Homo sapiens: one gene and its partner. The protein of the gene in region 1 purifies or fractionates together with the protein of each later gene. This does not show direct contact. Each region holds a gene or a part of one and is shown on either strand. Other genes may lie near its edges.

Region 1 (2,990 bases):
AAGATATTTGATATATTAATTTAAACTTTTTGAGATGATTGATTAGGAATTGCATCATGTTCACATGAGTATACCGAATTCAAAGTTAAACTTCATAAGCAGGAGTTTTTACACATCGTAACATAATCATTACCCAATACTCGACACTCAATATTTGATACTCAACTGAATGTTTTTGAAATAAACACATTTTTATGTTATCTCTCTGGAGAAAGTAGTATATATCTTTTTACACAAAATATATCAGTGAGAGAGTGTTTGTTTAAGAAAAAAAATCAAAGCACAACAAGTTGAGAGAGTCCAGGCTTTATCAATATAAGTAATAATTTTTTAGAATGGTGATTTGATTTCACCATTTCAATTCAGCAGAGCCTGTATATATATATATATATATATATATATATATATATATATATATATATATATATATTACAATGATCTGTATTTCCTATTGCTAGAAGGATGAAAGTGAATCCATATAAACCATACCAACGCCGTTATGTGTAACTGGTGGTAAAACTTTATTATTCAAGTTTAGATGTAACAGACATCTTTGCTGCCTGAAGATTGTTTGCATAAGAAATACACCAAGAACATGTTTGTGAGTAGAAATGAACATGCACTATGAAAACAAAATAAAATAAAACGAAAAAATTTCATGTGTTGTAAGAACAGAACTATTATAGCCAACATTCTAGTATTCAAATCAGGACTACAAATTGAATTCTTTTTCTTAGCAACATGAAATCATTCCATATGAAAGACATTTTCTGCTGGTGAATATTGCTGTAAGTTAAATTTTACATTGGCATTTTGAGATGTTCCCCCCTCATGCCTCCCCCAAAGTTTTCCATGTGGTTGTCAAATAGTCCGCCCTAAGGAATTTGGCGTTTATTATTGTGATATTTGCCTTATTGGTAGCCATTAAGAAACTATGATTTTATCAGCCTAGTAATAGTTTTGCATCTTCATAGTCAACACTATTGGCTGCCTAGTTGATATTTACAGCTCGTCTTTAAGAAAAATGACCCCAACCTTTCCTGGCCTTTGGGAACTGACAGTTTAAATAACCCCCTTGGCCACATAATAATACTTGGCACTCCTATGGTGCCTTTCAACCAAGGATCTCAAAGTGCTTTACAAACAAGTACTACATTACCATTATTATTATTAATAATATTATTAATACATATATTTTTCAATTTTACAGCTGAGGAACCTGAGGCACAAAAAGAAAAAGTGATATGCTGCAGTTTATATGTTGGGAAAAAAAAAAAAAAAAAAAACAGGGGAAAACCAGAATTGAGTTTTGGGACTCTATGCTCTAGAAGGACAATTTTCTCTGATAAAAGCTAAACATTATTTCCACGGTAAAGTTATTCCTGCTTTTCTCCGGTGTAGGACAGAGTGAAGCTTACAGCTCTCCCTTTCCTTTCAAGAGAACACATGAATGTACATTGTCTAGTTTCTCACGTGTGGATTACTCTTGAATTTCACATTTTCTTCATGTGACATACTTGACATACTTCTGCCCTAGCATATTCCAGAAGTTCTAATTACTGCAATTAACTGGGATGCTTTCTAAGCAACTGCAGCACTATCAGGAACATGTGAGCCCACTGTCTATGAAACAGTACTGAAAAACCAAAAGGAAGTGCTCTGCAAAGAATCCATGCCTCTGCCCTTGGCCGTCTTTCTTTGGGAAAATAACAATGCCCTCCAAAGTCCCGACGGGCGTCCTTCTATCTTCTTCTCATTTGCAGTTGCCTGCTGATAGAATTCCACCTAACAGTACCTACCTTTGATTAGAATATTTAGTTTGATACTCAGGTTGCATTTCAATTCCTCAATTTTCTCTTGTGCCTTGGACAGTCAGCAAGCTTTCACCTTACTGGCTCACCAAAGACGACTTGATCTTTTTTTCTTTTTTTTTTTTTGCCATGGCTCTCAAACCAAAGACAGTAGCTAAAGTTGACCTCCTCTCAACTTAAGGCAAAAGGCTGGCATACAGCACAGAAGCAGACCACCAGCTTCTTTACTCCACATTTCCACCACTGGATGGCAGATATTCCCCCTCTAGAAATGCATTAATTTTATTTACTAAACAGGGCAGCAGTTCACAGGTCTCAAGACCGGTCACTTTGTGATGTTTTGCAGCCACACAACAGGAGGCTAATAATTATTTTAATAGCCATACTGAGACTCTTCAGTTTATTAAGAAAAATGTATTTCCTCAGGCATTTTAAAATATATATACATTTAATATTTTTGGAGCTGTATTTGCATTGGATCATAATAGATTATGTGCACATGTGCAATTATAAACATAATGTGCTACCACAGGCTTCAACAAAGAGCTGTTAAAGATACTTTTTTCCCTTCTCATTAATATTACCTTAGAAAAGAATCCCCATGCTTGTTTTATAAAAATCTACCTTCACTAAAACAGAACAGTTTAGAACAGAACATCACTATCTTAAAAGTTGATTAAAAAAAATCTCAATATGTCATGTAGAGAGAATTGGGCATACTCTTTTCCTTTTGAACTACAGAGTTATCAATTAGAGCTCTGTCCTTTTCTCATATACTTGGAGTCATGTAGTGTCTCTCTCAATCCACAACGTTCTGAGATGGGTTGGCTCTTTATGATTTTTCTATCCCAAACAACAGAATGAATACAGAGGTGAGTGATGAGAGAAAGAGTGAGAAAAGGAAGAATGAGAACGCATGAGCTGGTCCTGGCCTAAAGTTTGATCCAAAGCTCAATTTAGAATATAGACAAATAATTTTAAAATATTTTCAGTTTTTAAATGGCACACAATTTTAGCTGGCACATCATTTTCATCACAGGGGAAGCCTTTTCCAAGAGAGAAAATTCCTAAATCATCATGAAATTCCTCATTAAAAAAAGTTCCGTACCATAATAGCTCGTTTAAAATCACAATTTAAGATAAAATAATTCAGAAATCTTAAATTAAAAAAATAAATTT
Region 2 (3,744 bases), on another chromosome or scaffold:
TGCTAGGACAGGTAAATGTAGTCAGTTATCCATTAGTTCAACTTACCGTTCATATCTTTCTGTCATAAACACTAGATCCAATTCCCATTTCAAAAAAGTTGAACCTACCTTTCTCATGGCTATCAATCAGTAAAACTTTTTTGCCTGCAATTGTGTCAAGCATCAAAAACTTTCATATAAATATTTGAATTAAAAATCTAGTTGCTATTAGGGCACTCTAGGGCCAAATATCGTCCAAGATATCAGACTCACCCCTCCCAATGAAGAAACGCAGACGGCATCATGGCCCAAACTTCTGACATTCATGAGCCCCAGGAGATGGGAAATACAAGCGTCTTTAGAAACACTAAAGGGCTCGTGTACATCCTTTTGTACCTTGGGATAAGTACTCCCTGCACACACAACCTCAAGGTATTCACATTTATACTTTGCCAGCCATCAGCCTCTCTCTCCTGCACACACACATGCATGTGCACAAATGTGGTAACAGAGACAGGAGCTTTTGCTCATATTTTTTTTTTAATGTATCACAATGAGCAGGAAACATACTTGATGAAATATTTTCAAAGGAGTATATTCAATTACCATCTACAATCAACTTAACTATGACAACAAAGTTTTTGTGACAAATTTTTTTTTCAGTTTGAAAGTTCCATGTGGTTCTGTTTGTTAGTCTCCATGTATTTTGGTACAGTTCGAGATCAGCATTGTTACAGTAACAAAAAAGCTAACAAGACTACATTATAGAAAAACACCAAGAACATCATTTTTGGTTTCACTTGCTCTATTTTTTTTGTTGTTTTTTGTTTTTTTTTCTTTTTGTACATTGCAAAGGCTGTTCATATACCTCTTCACCTCAGGGTCACGTTCATTTATGCTTTCTTTCCTACCCAAACTTGCCCCCCTCCCCCCTGAAGAAAGTAAACAAACAAAAAACTAGTCAAAGCTTTGTTTCACAGTGGGCAGTATCTCAGCGCCAACAAACAACTCAATTTATGCTTCTATTTAAAATGTTTTAATTTATTATTTAAAAAAAATATATGTCCATGAACATCAAGTGCACTGGCTTGGGTCACTGCCTCTCTCTCCTGCAACTTCCTGCCATGCCTGATAAACTCAGGTTTAAACACATGCCGTCTGTTTTACTTTATTTTCAATTGTGTAAAACTTTGGCCACATTCATCTCTTTAAATAGCTTGTAATTAAAAAAAAAATTCCTAGATGTATTAAATTTTTCCTTGTGTAGATATGTGGTTTTTGGAAGGATGGAGGAAAGATGGATGAAATAACTCCCATTCTGTGGGTCAGACTGGTGTCTAGCACCAACCCACACTATAGGGAGAAAACCAAAAAACGAGTGTCAATGGAGGTGAAGAACTAATTTAAAAAGCAAGTGGAAATATATCCTACCCAGCTACCTACAATGCAGCAGACAGGAATAAATTCCCCAAGTGAGATAAAGCTAAACAAACAGTTGAGCATTGTAGTGAATTCATGCTTTGTAAATAGTACTGGTCATAGCCACGATGGCTGTCAGCCCACAAACATCTAACTCATGTTTGACCTCTAATGTTCACCATCACTGACTGCTTTGCTACTTCTGGGTTAGTGCTGAGAATTATTCTTACTTTTTTCAATGAACATATATGTGGGCGGTTTAGTTGCAGAGGAAAGCATTAAGGGTGCAACCCACTCCAGGTTGAAACAATCACATAACCCCTCTGAGAACACTAGGTGGGTGGAAGTGTGCTCAGCCAATCTATTCAACCACCTTATTGTCGCCAAACACCCACAGCTCAAGGCATGGCATAACAAAACACTGACAGTCACTCTGCCTCACAGAGGGAGGATGGCATAGTAGCTCCATGAAAAAAAAAAACAAAAACAAAAACAAAAACCCAAACCATCAGGGAGGGGGCAGCAAAATTATAAAGAAAAGAACTTAAAAGTTGAGGGGGGAGGGAAAAGGATAGAAATTGCACTATTACCAAGCAATATCATTTTTAAAAACAACGTTTTCAGAGAAGACCTAGCAGAATTTGACAGGTAAAGCTAGTGTTACATTGTTAACTGATATCACATAGAGAACCAAAAACAAAAACAATTTTTTTTCTATATGGTACAGACACAGAGTAACATACAACAGTTAAATGGCAAAAAATATATATATATATATTTCATAGAGTTACAAACAAGATAAAATAATGGAAAACAAAAAACTGTACAACTTTAAAATTTAAAAATGTTCATCTCAAACACAGGAAGAAATACAAGATTTCTTGTTAAAAGGAAATAGCTTGTTAAAACAGTAAATGTTTTGCGTACTTGCTTTTGACACCTTATGCTACAACTGGATACTGGTATGAATAGTTAGATGGTATTCTTTCTTTAGTATTTCTACTTAAAAAAAACAATTAAAAAAGGAATTTGCACTGTGCATCAGCCTAGTTAGAAATATGTACAACATTTCAGGATCTACTATTTCATTAAACTAAAAACAAATTCATAAAAATAAAATAGTCCCGGCTAAAAAAGAAAAAAAGAAAAAAAATCCATTTTCAGATCTTGGAATGCTCCAGTCTTTTGCAAAGTCGATGAGTGGCTTCAGCACTGGGGAAAGAAGCCCGAAAGGTGACCAATGGAACCTGTATTCACAGTCTTCAAAGTTCCCTTTTGAAACATAAGGAAGAAAACGAAGGGAAGAAGGATTTCACACTTTGGGGGCAAGGGGAGATGGTTTCTGTTGATGTTTAGCTATGAAAGTGAAACAGCAAAGCATCTATTTATTTGTCTCCAAAATCTATGTTTTAGCAGCACAAAGTTTTCAAAGTTCAGACCATTTATTTATTTTTCTTTTTACATGAGAAAGGGTGTGTGTTAACAGGAATATGGATATTAACAGAAACAAGTGCCTCACATACAGTTCCTTTTTTGCTTTCTGTACACTGCTATCTGCTGCTTTGTTGGCTGCGCTCTGGATCACTCGCTGCTCAGACTGCCTAACACAAGGACAAAACTTTGAAGTAAAAAATGTGTCTTTTGGTATATGGAATTGTCATTAACATTTGCCTCTCTGCTTGCAGAAGAAGCACATAACAACCTGGGAATCTTTTGTTTTTCTCTTTCTTTTATTAAACTAAGTCTTGTTTGTTTAAATCAGAAACAAATTCTCAAGTAACAAGAACCCTTTCCCTTTTTTCTGCATCAGCAGTGAAAGGGTGTGTCTTTGGATTTTATTTAAAGCATGAAATTTTTTTTTCTGAGAGAGGAAAGAAAAAACAAACACAAAACCAAAAACCAAATCCCTAACCAAAAACTTTTTTTAGAAAAGAAAAGTACACAGCCAATTACACAAATGGAAACAAATCCTTTAGTATAGAAAAAAAAAGAATATTTGAAGCTCCTACCAAACAAGGAGGAAAAGAAGGGGTACAAAGAAAAAAAAGCCAAAAGAAGGATAAATAAAAAATAAATGCACAAAGCTAACAGACACAGGTAACTAGAATTATATGCCTTTAAAAAGTTTCAACTCCCCAACCAAAAATAATCTGTGAGGATCCTAATGACCCCTAGAATCCCTTGAAATTCTTTCTTTAGTTTTATAAAATAATTCTGCAGCTCCCTCTAAGAAATGAAGGCAGCTACCTTAAGTGGGAGATTATAGGACGGGAGGTGGGAGAAGGAAAGAGAAAGTGGAATTAAGGGACAAGAAAGAGAAAGTGGAATTAAGGGACAAGGGGAGAA

The links. Proteins that work in one complex are often made in the same cells at the same time.
Region 2: the proteins of TRPS1 (region 1) and ZFHX3 purify together in Homo sapiens (affinity purification with mass spectrometry; one large-scale study listed by BioGRID and IntAct). This does not show direct contact.

Annotation. Positions count from the first base shown.
Region 1 is NC_000008.11:115,407,996-115,410,985, forward strand, and holds the end of TRPS1 (zinc finger transcription factor Trps1), read right to left. Parts: 3' UTR 501-2,990; downstream 1-500. UniProt on the Homo sapiens protein: Transcriptional repressor. Binds specifically to GATA sequences and represses expression of GATA-regulated genes at selected sites and stages in vertebrate development. Regulates chondrocyte proliferation and differentiation.
Region 2 is NC_000016.10:72,782,385-72,786,128, forward strand, and holds the end of ZFHX3 (zinc finger homeobox protein 3), read right to left. Parts: 3' UTR 501-3,744; downstream 1-500.